Linked DNA regions of Homo sapiens: region 1 is linked to region 2. Evidence: fine-mapped expression QTL. Tissue or cell type: cerebellum. Region 2 holds a variant in brackets; the other region holds the start of a gene. All regions are shown on one strand. Distances are between the middles of the regions.

What was found. PIP is the estimated chance that this variant, and not a neighbour inherited with it, causes the effect.
Region 1: HDAC7 starts here. The variant in region 2 is fine-mapped to the expression of HDAC7 in cerebellum (GTEx, PIP 0.93).

What each region holds. Positions count from the first base shown.
Region 1 is chr12:47,814,820-47,822,923 of GRCh38, forward strand. It overlaps HDAC7 (histone deacetylase 7), which reads right to left and starts at 5,084. Exons shown (of 26, transcript NM_015401.5): 1 at 4,948-5,084. The coding sequence starts at 4,966. RefSeq lists enhancers at 2,279-2,388, 2,635-3,295, 4,013-4,586, 5,925-6,846 and silencers at 4,495-4,804, 4,815-4,894, 5,035-5,374.
Region 2 is chr12:47,357,829-47,365,932 of GRCh38, forward strand. All of the region lies in intron 1 of LINC02416 (long intergenic non-protein coding RNA 2416), which reads left to right. It overlaps MIR4494 (microRNA 4494), which reads right to left and starts at 6,441; the gene lies at 6,358-6,441. RefSeq lists a silencer at 3,754-3,803. The variant A/G (reference allele first, on the strand shown) is at 4,876.

The DNA.
Region 1 (8,104 bases), 460 kb after region 2:
TGTCACCTTCTTAGGCAGTCCTCCCCTGGCCACCCTATCAAAGGAAGTCCCACCTTGTTATTCTTTATTGCCATGCCCAGTTCATTTCCTTCTTAGGGCTTATCACAGTGTGTAACTAGTCACACATACTCATTCCTTTACTTGCCTACTTGTTCTGTTTGTCTTCTCCACGAGAGTGGAAGTTCCCTGAGGTCAGATGTTGTGCCTGTGTGTTCACTGCATATCTGTACCCAGTGCCTAGAACATTGCAAGGCTCAGCTAGGATCCAGTGAATGGATGAATTGCTGAGTGACTGGCTCAGCAACATGGTTCCCTGGTTGCCAACATTGACCTTTAGGGATGACACTCAACAGTTCCAGGATTTCTCCAAAAAGGAGGCAGCAGAATGTAGCAAGAAGAACAAGGTCAGAAAACAAGAAAGCCAGGACCCCAGAGGAAAGATCAGCCCCAATTAGCACCAGCCCAATCGGGTCCACGTCATCACAAAGTGTAGTTATGAGCACACATGCACACACACACACAGGGGGTACATGGGTGAGCACAAAGTCCTGGACAGGTCTTAGAAGCCTTGAGTTTTCTCTTGGTTCTTCCTCTTAATGGCCCTGTCACCTTAGAGAAACTACATACCTTCTGTGGGTCTATTTCCTCAAAAGAAAAAATGAAGAGGTTGACCCAGGGCAGTGGTCCTCAAACACAGCCTTGCCCCAGGATCACCTGAAGCACCTGTTAAAATCTGGATTCCCAGGCCCCACCCCTCAGATTCTGACTAGTCAATCTGGAATGGGCCTGATGATCTGAATGTTTTTAATTTTGAGACAGTCTCACTCTATTGCCCAGGCTGGAGTGAGGTGGCGCAATCTCGGCTCACTGCAACCTCCACCTCCTGGGCTCAAGCAATTCTTCTGCCTCAGCCTCCCAAATAGCTGGGACTACAGGCCTGCGCCACCATGCCTGGCTAAATTTGTATTTTTAGTAGAGATGGGGTTTTGCCCTGTTAGCCAGGCTCGTCTCGAACTCCTGCCTTCAAGTGATCTGCCTGTTTCAGCCTCCCAAAGCCACCGCGTCCAGCCAGGATTTTTTTTTTTTTTTTTTTTTACAGAGTCTTGCTGTCACCCAGGCTGGAGTGCAATGGCGTGATCTTGGCTCACCGCAACCTCTGCCTCCCGGGTTTAAGCAATTCTCCTGCCTCAGCCTCCCGAGTAGCTGGGATTACAGGCGCGCACGCCACACCTGGCTAATTTTTTGTATTTTTAGTAGAGACAGGGTTTCGCCGCATTGGCCAGGCTGGTCTTGAACTCCTGACCTCAGGTGATCCACCTGCCTCGGCCTCCCAAAGTGCTGGGATTACAGGCGTAAGTCACCGCGCCCGGCCCAGGATCTTTATCTTTAACACATTCCCCAGGTGACTCTGAAGCAAATGGTCCAGGAACCCGCATTTGAGAATCCCAAATGAGATGGTGTTTTACAAGCCAGCATCTGGACTTCTATTAAAAAGCCACTCCTGCCCAGATATATACCCCCAAAAAACATGTCCATACATATGGACATGTTTACCCCACACAGGGCCATAACCTGAAAAGGTGTGCACCATACAGATGATGCACATCTGTCTTTTATGTGTGCATATTCCCAAAACACCCAACACAGAACCACCACATAGATCACAAATTGCCCGGAACCACCACATCAGCATACACAGGGTCTGGGGGGAGGGGTACACACACAGATACCCACCACGCACCCAGTGTGTGCTCACACACATCTCATGCAGACCCACACTAAACAGACGCTGTCCTGAATTTATTTTGCCTCTGGGAACTGGTCCAGGACCAAAGGAGCTATGCTCTGCTGATGAAAACATCCCTCCCACCTCTGCCACCCCCACCCCTGCCCCTTGCCCCAGGCAGCATGCTACCCACCTCTCCCTTGTAGGAGGAGGGAGACTGGAGGAGGGCAGTGGGGATGGGTTGGGAGGAAACAAGAGGCTAGGCCAGCGACTCAAGTTGCTCAGGGCCCTTCCGGGCGTCCAGCTCCCCTCTTTCCCTCTCCCTTCCCCCCAGAAGACGCCAAAGGGCCTTCCCCCAGCCCGCGAGTCCATGCTCACTCAGGCCACTCGCCTAGATTCCCAGGCCCCTGATCCTAGGGAGCCAAAAGGGTTAGGGAGGTGGCTAGATCTGGGGACTCCTCCTAATACTCAGGCCTCTAAGGAAAGGGCTGTCTGGGGGCACCTTCCTGTAGCCCTAAGGCCTGGGGCCTCCAGGGAAGGTTACCACAGAAACAGGGGGAAAATATTACAAGGAAACACAATACCCGGCAGGGTCACCTGCTGACCGGGCTTCCTGCTGTGTTGCCCACCCCCAGCTCACTGCTCTCACAGCCTCCTTCTCCAGCCTTGGCCTGGGCCTCCTCACCAAGGCTCTCCTTCCTGCCTCCCCAGAGCTGGGAGAAGCAGTCTTAAGCAGAAACTCTGCCCCTCCGTGGTTCCAAACAACAACATCGAGGATGGCCCAGAGCTGAGCCCCCCACTCCTAATCCTTACCAACCCCTCCTCACCATCACCACAGGAAATCAAAGCTTCCTGCCCCAAAGGAAGTGCCCCATCTAGTGAACAAATCCAACACACACAAATGCACAGTCCTGGGAGCCTCCGGGAGGACAGATGCCCTCCCGCTAGCCCCAGACTTTATTCAGGCCCTGCTTCCAGCAATACCCCACACCCCACTGGAGGCCTCAGTCCGAAGTCTAACTGAGGGCAGGCCAGGGAGAGCCAAGCTGTGGAGGGTGGGCCAGCAGAATGGGCACTGGCAGAGTGAGAAGGCCTGGTTCTGGCCCCCTCCGCCTGCCATTCCCTGGCTGTGTGACCCTGGGCCTTGCATTAGCTCACCTTCTCTCAGGCCCCTGCCGACTTCAAAATTACCAGCCCTTAATGAAAGGCCAGGAGAAAGAAGGCAAAGAGGAGATGGGGTTCCACAGGCTTCTGTCTTCCAAGTCCTTGGGCATGCTTGCCCACAGCTACCAGAGGGTCCCCACTCCCTACCCCATCACACATGAGTTTCTCTCTTGCTCAAGGGTTTTATATCAGAATTGAGAAAGTTCCAGCTTCCATGCCAAGAGGCCACCAAGGACTAAAGCTGAGGTCCATTATCCCTAAGCAAACTGGAGGGGGTGGATAATAGCACAGTACCTTCATTCTCCTCTCCATAGTCAACCTCTTCTGCTCTGCTCTGAGAAGTGTGCTTGGAATTTTCTCCCCATTTTACTGATGGGGAAACTGAACTTCAGTGTCAAAGTGGAGTGAACAGCTTAGACATGCAAACTTCCCTGCCCCAAAACCCACTGTAAGACCCGGTGGCCACAGAGACACCCGCCGAATAAGGGACACAGAGGCCTCTGGAGAACACTGCACCAGGACCATTCCAGGTGCAACATCAGGAGGCAGCTCTGAGCTTGCCTCTGAGCCTGGCCCTGCTGGGCAAGGAGGGACATCAGGGGACTAAAGGCAGAGGACCAGTCCCAATAGGTCCAAGACCTGGTTCCAGTCTAGGTTCACTGGGCTGGGTACCACTCACTGGGACTACTCTGTGCCTTAGTTTCCCTCAGAAATGACTGCAGAGAAGAAGAAAATGACTTAATAACCCATGGGTAGCGGCAGCCTAGCAGCCTATGGAGTCCTGGGAGGGGGAAAGGGCCGCCAAAGCGTCTCATTGGAGGGCAGGGACCTGAGTCACAGTCTCCTGCCAGCCCTATAGCTGAATAGGGGTCCTGAGGAAGGTCCCACAGGTCCAGATGCAAGTCCAGGGAACAGGCTGAGAAGTTGATCTTGAGCTCCCAGCAGGGCCGCTGAGGGCCGATGCCCCATTCTCACCCTAGAAAGCGGCAGGCAGAGCTGGGCCTCAGGCAGATGTTGCCTAGGGGAGTGGGCAGGGAGCGTTGGCAGCGAGACAGCCAGTGTCCAGATGCAGGGGGAGGCCTTTGGGTGCGCAAGACAGCCAGCGGGGAGAAGGAGTGAGGAGCAGCCGTGGCTGGGGAGGTCAGACCCAAACGGGCAGCCACAGCGGGAAGCAATGGGGGTGGGGCACTGGGTGGCCTGCGGGCCCCAGAGGGCTCTCTCCTGGCCCACAGGCCTAGAAACTCTGGTCGTGGGAACCCAGCCCATCCGCCAAATTTGCCGCCTGCTCTCACACTCCCCAACACCAACAGACCCCAGGCCTGGGGGGTGCACATCCTGTCCCCCACCCCTCACACAGCCTGCGGCGCCCCGCTTCCCGCGCCGCTGCCGGCATTGACCTCCACAGCTCACCAGGGCACAGGTGTCTCTTCACCCTGATGGGTGAGCAAGGATGGGGGGCAATGCTCAGAGAAACCTCCCAGCCAGAGACCCCTCCAAGGGACCTCTTTCCCCGCCGAAGGATCTGAGTAGGGCCCTGCCCGGCTCCACGGGATGGGGGCGCTGATGTCCAGCCCCACAAAGCCCAGCCCCAACTCAGTGGGTCCTGCCCTTTGCCCTCGCGCTTCCAAACCTTCCGCCCCGGAGCACCGCCCCCTCGCCGGGCCACCGCGGCCGTCCCTCCCTCCCCGGTCCCTCGGCTCGTCCTCCCCGGGAACAGGGGTGATGGGACGTGGGGCCCGCACACCGGCGGCCGGGGCCTCCAACTCCCTCCCTTGGGCCTGTAGCTGCCCCGGGGCGGGCGGATGTGGGCGCCCCGCGGGAGGCCCGAGCCCTCCGGCCCCCGGAACCAGCTCCGACCCGGAGCCTGCCAGAGCCCCGCGGAGCCGGGCGGGACAGGCGCGGTCGGGGGGCGCAAGCCGGGCTGGGCCCGCGGGGCTGGCGGGAGCCCGAGCCGGAGCCGGAGCCGGAGCCGGGGCCAGGGCCGGAGGCCGAGCCTGGGCGGGCGACGCTGGGTGCCGCGCGCAGGGCGGGGCGGGGGGCGGCCGCCCAGTACTCACCAGCGCCGGGGCTGTGCATCCAGGGGCCGGGGCCCTCAGAGCGGGGGGCTCATGGCGGGGCGGGGGGCTGGGGCGCCGGCCTCACATCCCCCCAGTCGCCGGAGGCTGCAGAGCGACTGTGAGACGGCGAGAGGAAGGGAGGGGGCCGGGAGGGGGAGGGCCCTGGCAGCCCGGCCGGCCGGGTAGGATGACAATGGAAGGAAATGCTTTATCTGAGTCTGAGAGCGGGCCAAGGGGGAGGGGAGGGAGGGGGCAGGCGCTCGCGGCCCTGGGACACACCACCCCGGCAGACACTGCACCGCGCGGCGCACAGGCGGGCCGCAGACACCGCGCGCGGCCAGATCGCGGCGGGGCGCGGCGCACTGCCGGGGAGGCAGCGCCGAACCCGGAACGCCGGCCGCGGCTCCGAGCCCCAGCCGCCGCGAGGCGCTCCGAGCCGTGCACAATTCCCGGAAACCCAGCTACCTGGGCGCACGCACCCTCGCATACACAACGTACACGAGCACGCATCCATGTTTACAAGGGGCAGAATCATTTACACAGCACACACTGGGGCTTCGGGGTGGACCCCCGTGCACACACTACATACCCGTACAGCCCACAAGCACGCAGCCACACGCGGGCACAGTGGGACACGCGTGGTGTCCCATGTCCCATACAAGGAATCCCAGACGGACACCCCCCACCACACACACACACACATAAGCACGACTTGCCTCAGGAAAGTTCCAGGATCTGATTTGAATCACTGCCCAGCCCTCCCCCACTGGCACCCCCACACACACACCATGCCTGCTGAGGGGAACGGAAGGGTCCAGCCTGTTCCTATTAAAAGAAAAAGGGTGTGGGGGTGGTGCAGATTTTGAAAGTTTTCTTTTTTTAAAGAAATTTCTCAAGGGACTTCCTTCCCTCCTCTCCTCTTCCTCTCTTCCTCCCATTCCTCTCCCTCCACAACCCCCCTCTTTCCCCCTCCCGGTCCCTATGAGTCAAACTTCAGCAATGTGCCCAGTGTCCCCCAGTGCATTACAGCGGATCACAGAAATGTTCCAGTCTGTGAGTCGGAATGCAGCCGCCTCCAGCCCTCCCTCAGCTAATAAACTCAGCTCAGGGCCGGCTTTAGGCAGTGGCCCTCCCTGCCTCTCCCTCCGCTTTTAGCTGGAGAGAAGGTCAGATTCAGGGGTCAGGGGCTAAGGACCTCGCCATTGTGCTTCCTGGGCTAGCCGGTCAGCCGTGTCTGCCTCCAGCAATCTGGAGCTGCTCCTAGGAAGGGGAGAGGTCCACCACGCAGGAACACTGGGCTCTCTGCAGCGTGAGGCGCCACCATTGTAAACCAAGGAGCAGCTTCCCCTGACCCCATTCTATCTCCCGCAATCCTAAGAAACCCCAAGAATCCAGAGAAGGAAAAATTGAGGCAGCCCCAGAGGTGGAGTCATGTCTGATTGGAAGCAAGAGCCCACAGTGGCCTAGGAGGGCTTGGCCATGCTGGCGGTGAACTTCAAACCATAGATTCTATTCCCTTCCCTCAGGCACAGCTCGGGACTCACTATCTGTTGCTACCGGCATATTCAGCGTGGGACTTCTTACTTCAGCCCCTTTCCTTGTCCCAGTTCTCCTTCGGCAGGCAGATCCAACCCCTCTGCGCTTGTTAACTTACCCTCCCAAAAGCCTTTCCTGGCATTCAAGTCCTCCTACAACCTGGCACCACACTCCATACACATCCCTGCCCAGTGCCTCCTGGTACTTAGGGCTCAGTAGTGTTAGTCACTATTATTACTATCATTATTTCTGCCAGACTGGGCTGCTAGCTGCTTCCCATCCTGTCCTCACGCTTCCACACTCCCTTGCCTTCGCTCATCATGCTGCCTCCAAAAGAAATGTCCTCCCAGCCCCTTTCTCCTTCTGTTGAAATCTTTCCAATCCTCAAGACCCACTCCCTATCTAGTGGGAGGGAGGGAGGGAGGGAAGGAAGGAAGGAAGGAAGGAAGGACTGGAAGAAAAAGAAAGTGGCATACCACTTTCTCCGGGAGGCTTTCCCGGATTCCCATAGCCAAGAGGAATTCTTCCCTGAACTGTGTGGTCTTTATACATTGACCTTCGCCCACCTAGTCTACTTGTCTCAACTCTCTTCCTTCCAAGAGCATTCAAGAGTGGATATCCCTGAGTCCAGCTACTGCCTTGGTCATGGGTGCATTTCTTGTAGTGTCTTGCACAGAATTCAAACTTGATGTGAGTTATTTGTTGAATTGGGACAGATGTTCATGACTTTCAAGAACCCTTCTCCAGCTGGACACCTACAGTACATTCTTTCACCCCATAACTACCCATGCTGACTCTCCAAGACACATGCTGTTCCACCTTAGGTATGTCATCCCCAGCCCTCAATTCCAAGCCAGATCATCCTCCTTCCAAATGCCTCTTTGGTGTCCACAGACTCCAGAAAAACTGCTTGGTTACTGCAGACCCCCAGCGACATGCCTGCTATCTCCCTTGTCTAGCTCCACAATTGATCCCAACCCCCAACACACACATATCCGTAGCTTTTCTGTAGCTATTTCTGTAGTAAAGCCAGGCCCTTTTATGCTCATTTCTACCATGTGCATTGTGCATACATTTATTTGTGAGTCTTCTTTCTCTTTTTAAACTCATCACTGAGTTTTGAGTGATCTGAATTAAGAGGCTATCTCCCTGCCTGTCTGTCCACACAGTGCCCAACATGTGGCTTTCTACACACCAGGACTCACTGCCTCCAACATATAGTCAGAGAAAAAGACAGCATGTGCAACCTGCATCTGGGAAAGCTGGACTGTGTCTCTCCTTCCCCTGCCAGATTTACTTACCAGACCCCGCCTCATGGCAGAGTCCTAAGCCAGTTTCTAAGTCACATGTCCCCTACCAGGATAAATTAGAAAGCCTCCAAGAACCTTAGAGACATGAGACAGAGAAATGCAAGCTACCTCTCTCTCTTCTAGCCTGGTTACCGTGGGGAGCCTTTTTTTAAAAAGCTCTTGAGTCCAGGCCTCTCATAGCTTTCTCAGCTGAACACCTAGCAGAAGAGACTGGCCCCAAAAGACGTGCCTTGGCTTCCTGAGCCTTCCCTAGAGTCTCCGGCCAGCACAAAGCCTGAGGGCACCCCAATCTGCTTCCCTTTGGGACTCTG
Region 2 (8,104 bases):
CTCAAGAAAGAAGGGACGGGAATCGCAGGATGTAGGTGACGGGGATTCCAGGGTGCCAACCGTGCAGCGGCCTCAGAGAGCAACCTGAGCAGATCGAAGCAAGTCTCCAGAAAACATAGCTCCAAAAAGATGAAATTGATATATTTGAACATATGGGAAGAACATCCACACTTCTGAAGAGGACTGGGGTCAAATTGCTGATAACTGCTTACATAGCTAAGCAAATTTTTAAAAAAGAATATTAACTTTAGGGAACATCGAAAGATCTTAAATAAAAAGTAACCATGATTTATCACATGGCTTGGTTGCAAGTAGTCACTTTTTCATAATAATGAAAACACTGAATACTGATCTAACCATAAAAATACTTTGACTCTATGGGGAGATGGGGGACTGGAAGTGTACATGTGTGTACAGATGTGACTAGGAAGGGGTGTGGGGAGTGCTGAATCCACGCATTCCTTAAAGAAGTCAGGATCATGTCCAAAACTTGGAAAATAATAGAGAGGAAGCAATACAAGAAAATTATTTAGAATTATAGCCATAATTTTTTTAAAGCTAAAAGACTCGAGGCTGGGCTCCGTGGCTCAGGCCTGTAATCCTAGCACTTTGGGAGGCCGAGGCGGGCGGATCATGAGGTCAGGAGATGAAGACCATCTTGGCCAACACGGTGAAACCCCGTCTCTACTAAAAATACACACAAAAAAAAATTAGCTGGGTGTAGTGGCGGGCGCCTGTAGTCCCAGCTACTTGGGAGGCTGAGGCGGGAGAACAGCGTGAACCCAGGAGGTGGAGCTTGCAGTGAACTGAGATTGCGCCACTGCACTCCAGCCTGGGTGACAGAGTGACACTCCGTCTCAAAAAAAAAAAAAGACTTGATCACAATTTCTTGGGAAGTGAAAAATAGGGAGAAGGAATGAAAAGTTGTCAATTGCAGCACTTTTTGGCTCTCTAATCTATGCACCTATATAAATTTGATTTAAAAGTTTAAAACTTTTTTCAAAACATGGAATGATGATATAAAATGAAGACAGAAAGTATACAGCAACACTGTCCAAAAGAAGTTTCTTCAATGATGGAAATTACATCCAATATGATAGCCCCTTGAAATGTGACTAGTGTGAGTGGGGAATTAAATTTAGAGGTTTATTAAATTTAAATCAATTTACATTTAAATAGCCACGTATGGCTAGTGGCTGTTATATTAGACAGTGCATCTATATACAATGGCCTGCTCCTATCTAGAATCAACTTTCCTTTTATAATTGAGCCTTCTTTCTTCTTCTAGTTTTTGTTTGTTTGTTTGTTTGTTTCTAAGCATTATTTATTTATTTATTTATTTATTTTACTTTCTCAATTTTTATTTTAGGCTCTGTGGTAGTTGTGTAGGTTTGTTACACAGGTAAATTGCATGTCACTGGGATTTGGTGTACAAATGATTTTGTCACCCAGGTAGTTAGCACAGTACATGACAGGTTGGTTTTTTACCTTCACCCTCTTCCCATCCTCCCCACTCAGTTAGGTCCCAGCGTCTATTGTTCTTTTCTTTGTGTCCATGTGTACATAATGTTTTGCTCCCACTTATAAGTAAGAACGTGTGGTATTTGGTTTTCTGTTCCTGCATTAATTTGCTTAGGATAGTGACCTCCAGCTGCATCCCTGTTGCTGCAAAAGACATGATCTCATTCTTTTTTATGGCTGCATAGTATTCCATGGTGTATATGTATGACATTTTCTTTGTACAGTCCATCATTGATGGGCACCTAGGTTGATTCCATGTCTTTGCTATTGTGAATAGTGCTGCAGTGAACATATGGGTGCATATGTCTTTTCGGTAGAAAAATTTATATTCCTTTTGGATATATACCCAACAATGGGACTGCTGGATCGAATGGTAGTTCTGAGTTCTTTGAGAAACCTCCAATCTGTTTTCTACAGTGGCTGAACTAATTTACATTCCTACCAGCAGCATATAGGCATTACCTTTTCTCTGCAATCACACCGGCATCTGTTATTTTTTGATTTTTTAATAGTAGCCATTCTGACTGGTGTGAAATGGTACGTCATTGTGGTTTTGATTTCATTTCTCTAATGATCAGTGATGTTGAGCATTTTTCGTGCACTTATTGGCTATGTGTATGCTTTCTTTTGAGACATGCAACTGACCCTTCTTTCTCTCCTGTGTAATCTTTTTGTCTGTTCTATGAATCCTTCCTACCAGCATGCTAAAATGTTATTTACCTTTTTTTTTAAAGTGCTGTTGCTTTGACCCCCATCCCTCTGTGACTATCCACCCCATTTTCTGTTCCTTTATAGCAAAACTCCTCAAAAGACTTCTGTATACCTCAGCTGTCCTACACAGCAGCCACTAGCCACATATGGCTATATGCATTTAAATTAATTGAAATTAAATAAAATGTAAAATTCAGTTCCTCAATTTCACTGGCCATGTTCCAATCACTCAATAGTTATGTGTGGCTCTCGGCTTTGCCTTGAGGAGAGACAGGTACAGAATATTTCTATCATCTCAGGAAGTTCTATTGGGCTTTGATAGAACTTTAAGCACTGATAGGAACAGGAGGGAGGGCCAAGTAAATGGGTACCTTGCTGGCAGTTTGGTAGATTTGGTGCTGGAAGGATAATAAAATTATCTCCTAGTTATTCTTTTTTTCTCAGTGGAATAAAAAATAAGTTCATCAGCTGAGAGTAAGGAAAGAGAAGGGACGCTCTAAGTAGGAGAATGAGAAGGTAGAAAACCTTTCCAGAGAGCAGGAGAGTGAATTGATAAAGGAAATAAAGAGTAAATATTCCTCCTCCTCCTTAACCTGAGTATGAAATTAAGGACAATAGGAATCATTATGTTTTCTTTTCATATTATTGCTGCTGTTCTCAGTGTTGTTATTAAAGAGGTCATCCTTAACACTGGGCATTCTAGATGGAGATGGAGGCATGAGCCAATTTTTCAGCTACTCCTTTTCCCCTGTAATTACTTTGAAATCAGGGATTACTGAGAAATCTCACTGTCGTGCTGTGACCACAACGTACACAGCAGGAAGGAAGGGGAGGTTCCTTCCTGGAGATGTTTTGCAGTGATAAGATACGGGCACTTCCTCAGTCAAGGGTCTTTTGATTTTAAGAAAGAGAAACCAACCCAAACAAACTTAAACAAGAAAAGGAGATGGACTGTAATGATACATGGGTGCCTCCTGGAACTTATAGGAGTACAGCTGGTCCTTATAGGAGCTTGACCCTGGGGGAGCCAGGAGACTAGAAAGCTCTCAGGAACAGGCAGAATCATGTTTCAAATCTCTGTGTCCCTCTCCCTCTTCCCTGCCCCACTGCCTGCACCTTGCCCCCATAAATATGGTTTCTCATGTCTTCTCCACAAGAAGTATTCTTTTCTCTTCTCTACAGAAAAGACCAGTTTTCTCTACAGCATTCTCAGCACACTTGATAGGTAAAAGATGGCCACTCCCATAAAGTCCTCCGTTCTTATTACCTCAGAACAAGCAAACTTCTCAAAGAAACAAGAACATCTCAGTCTCAGTTACAAAGTTCTGAGAGAATCTGATTAGTCAAACTTAGGACAACTGCCCAATGTGGGTTCAAACAACTCTGCTCGGGGACACGGCCACAGGTACAAACTTGACTTCCAGGGCCCATTCCCCCAGGGTGTAGGGCAGTTCTCAGAGCTCATTGGCTCCACCCTCTGGGAAGTCCTTTCTGTTCTATTATCTGCCTTGGTCATACTTGAAGTATTGAGCTACACAGCTTTCCACGTCCTGCCCTGAATTAGGGTGGTGCCTCAGGCTTTTTAGACCAGGCTTACAGTTTCTTTGTACTACTGAACGACTACCTCAAAAACCAGGAGGCCCCATCTATCTGCTTCCAGACATTTCCATGAGCAAATAACCATATTTAGAATTGTGTTTGAGGGACTTCTTTTATTTCTGCTTCATTCTTGTGCTTTCTTGTCCTCAAAACATCCTCCCTCTGCCTCTCCCCCGCACCTTCGTGGCCAGGACCTCGATTTAAGTAATTTTAATCCTCTAAAGTTTTAACAAGTTGTAAAAGTTGATCTAACCTTTGCCCTGAGGCATTTAATCAACTGATACACACACAAGTATGTATGTATGTATCTATGTGTGTGTGTGTGTATACATATACATATATATATATTTTTTTTCTTTTTTCCTAGCACTTTTTACTCAAAGCCTTTAAACTCTTCAGATTCTGAATCTAAAAGCAGTTGGTTTTTTCAAATTTATAAGACTCCAAATTTTTGGATTATCTTTATTCCCTTTTATTATTCATTATAAACTGGTCATTTCTTTCTGGAGTTGCTTCTCTCTCTCTCTCTCTTCCCTCCCAGTACTTTGCCAAACACAACCAGAAGCAACCACATATATAATAGCAGCAGTACAATAGGTGAATGGTCTTGCAAGGTAATCACAAGCAAAACCTTTACCAAATGTGTTGCCTTCTTCCCAGCATCTGATATCAGTTTCCTCTCTGTCATCAGCTGACTGCTAAGCCAGTATTTTAATTTTTTTTCAACAGCTTACCACTACTGGCCTCAGCATTTTTTTTTTTTCCAGTCAGGATAAGTTTTTTCACATTGCAGTAGCAACTTTCGCCTGGAATCTCAGTGGCCTTAATACAATAAAGCTGTGGGTCTGATGTGAGTCAGGTGAGTTCCCTGGGCAACTGCCCTGTGTGATGAAGTGGCTCAGTTATTGAAAAGATTTCTGTCGCTGGTTCTGTCATCTCAAGTCATGGGCTCCGAAATTGACCAACAAAGGAAAAGATCACAGGGAAAATTCACACCTGCTTTTCTAAGCTTTGATCCTGAAGTGAGACATATCACTGCTACTC[A/G]AAGTCCATTGACCAGGATTGGTTTTACCACTCCACCTAACTAGACAGGACCGGAAGTTATCTCTTCCATCGTCCTCAGCATGTTGAGAGAGCAGAGCTGTAAGATCAAAACAGCCTGGACAGTGGGGCCCCTAAAGTGAGGACCCCTGTCCTGGAGAGTGGCCCAATTGCACAGGAATTTACATGAGTGAGAAACAAAATTTTGTTGAAATAATACCCTGGGATTTGAAAATTTAATTATTCTTGCAACAGTCCATCCTATCCTGATTAATATGGGAACCCGAAAGATAGGAGTGAATGAAACAATATAGTTTCTTTTCCCTGAAGCAATTGTAATTCCAATCAAAATATCAATAGGATTTTTTTGGAGACTGACAAAATGTTGTAAAGGTCTTGTAGAATAATAGAGGAGTGAGAATAGCCAATACAACTGTAAATGAAATAATGAAGAAATAGTTTTATCCAATATTAAGATATTTTATAGGTAGAGAAATTATAAGAAATAAGAAAGCTGTTAATGGAGAATAAAGACCCCAGAAACAGACCCAAATACCTTTAAGAACTTAAAGTATTAATATTAATATAAGGCCATGTGCAGTGGCTCAGGCCTGTAATCCCAGCACTTTGGGAGGCTGAGGTGGGTGTATCACTTAAGCTCAGGAGTTCGAGACCAGCCTGAGCAACATTGCAAAACCCTGTCTCTACAAAAAATATAAAAATTACCTGGGTGTGCTGGTGCATGCCCGTAGTCACAGCTGCTTGGGAGGCTGAGGTGGGAGGATTACTTGAGCCCTGGAGGTCAAGTCTGCAGTAAGCCATGATTGTGCCACTGCACTCCAGCCTGGGTGACAGAGTAAGACTTTGTCTCAAAAAAATAAAATAAAATAAAATATAAATAAGGTGGTATTTTAAAGTTAATGGGAGAATATGAATAATTCAGAAATGTTGTGATGAACATGCCATTGGGGGAAAAAGTGCAGAAGTATCTTATGCCCAAACAAATTCTATGTGGATCAATAACTTGAATGTAAAATATGAAACCATAACAATACTGGAAAAATCATTGATCTTTTTCTCATAATTTTTAACTGGGGAAAAGTGACAGACATAAAAGATAAGATTGATAAATTTACTTATATAAAAGTTAAAACTTTTTCAAGACTAGAATACCGTAAAGTCAAGAGATAAACCACAGGATAGAAAAAAAAAGTCTGCAATTTATATAACAGGAAGAGGGTTAATTTCTTTTATATACAAAGCAATTAAAAAATCAGCAACAGAAAACTGAACAATTCAATAGAAAAATAAGTTTGCAACAAAAACAAAGCAAACAGCCAATAAACACATAACATTTTTAGCTATCTAAAAAAATCAAGGAATGTAAGTTAAAACAAGATACTGTTTTTCACTTTGTATATTTTGCAAAAATACTGGAGCTTGCACCCACCCCACCCAACCCCATTCTATGGTTTTACTTTCTGAGGTTTCAGTTACCTCTGGTCAGCCACAGTCTGGAATTTTCCATTTTGTATTTTCAGACTGCAGATGACCAGGGTAACTAAAACTTCAGAAAACAAAGTATTAAATGGAAAATTCCAGAAACAAACAACTTATACATTTTAAATTGTGCAGCATGGTATAATCCCATGGATAAAGGAGAACTACTGTAAAATGTTGATCTTACTCAAGAGTGTGGGAAACAGGACCACTCATGTATTATTAATGAAATGTAAATTGCTACAACTTTTTGGAAAGCAATTTGGCAATAACTATTAAAATTTAACAAGCACATTCTCTTAAACTCAGCAATTCTCCTTTCAGGAATTTTTCCCAAGGAAACGCTTTCACCAGGCGGCAAATATATACTGTATAGGAGTAGCATGATACTATTATTTGTAATAGTAAAAAAAAAAAAAAAAATTTAAATGCCCATCAAGAGAGGATTAAATAAACTATAGTGGCTCTGTAAAATGGGATATTACATAGCTGTTCCAAAGAACCAATGCATTTCTATGTCTTGATATGAAAAGTATCCAAACTAAACTGTTTTAAGTAGGAAAAAAAGGTAGAATACAATATCATTATAAGTGAAAATTCCTAGAATCACGTTTATACATATATTTATATACATGTATGTATATACATACAAATATCTGAGAAAAAAGAAATAATAGCTATGATTATCTTCAGCTATAATTACATTAAATATGGATTTGTAAGTAAGGAGGTAGGCGTTTACATTTCATACCCATTTGTAAGTTTTACAGCTTATGAATGTGTTGCTTTATGGTTAAAAACAAGATTTTAAACTATTAATCCTTTCATGCAAATATTAATTCTCCATTTCTACCATTCAATCTATATCTCAAAAAATTTGCATATACAAAAAAAACGGACCAAAGTTGTGGATGTTCAGAACATGTTATAAATGAGTAAACGAAGTCACCAATCATCATGAGAGGGGAGCACAATCTTTAGAAAGTCAAGCCCTGTTTCCACAGCAAGGAAAAATTCCCCAGGTTTAAGTGGTAATGGTTCTCTATCAACATTCCAAAAAGAAATTCAGTAATAATAGTAGTAGTAGCTGACATTTACTGAGTAGTGACTAAGTTGGATTCAGCAGTCAGCCCTTTTACACGCATCTTTTCTCTTTTTTTTTTCTGGCAGAGTCTTGCTTTGTTGCCCAGGCTGGAGCACGGTGGCATAATCTCGGCTCACTGCAACCTCAGCCTCCTGGGTTCAAGTGATTCTATTACCTCAGCCTCCCGAGTAGTTGGGATTACAGGTGTGCACCACCACGCCCAGCTAATTTTTGTATTTTAGTAGAGACAGCATTTCACCATGTTGGCCAGGCTGCTCTCAAACTCCTGACCTCAAGTGATCCACCCACCTTGGCCTCCCAAAGTGCTGGGATTATAGGCATGAGCCACGCCAGGCCAGGAATCTTCTCATTGAATCCCACAGACTCCATGTAGCAGGGGCACCAGGGCCAGTCCCATTCTACCAACGAGGAAACTAAGGATCAGAGAGTGAAATTAAGAAATCACACAAGAGACTCAGGGCTTGAGTTTCAAAGCACTTGTAATATGCTTCACTGCTGACTCCACCCCTTACTATGTGTCCTCAGTAAAGTGGCTCTGCCAGAGGCGTTTGAACCAGAGGACTCCATCTTGAATAGGGACTGGGTAAAATAAGGCTGAGACCTGCTGGGCTGCATTACCAAGAGGTT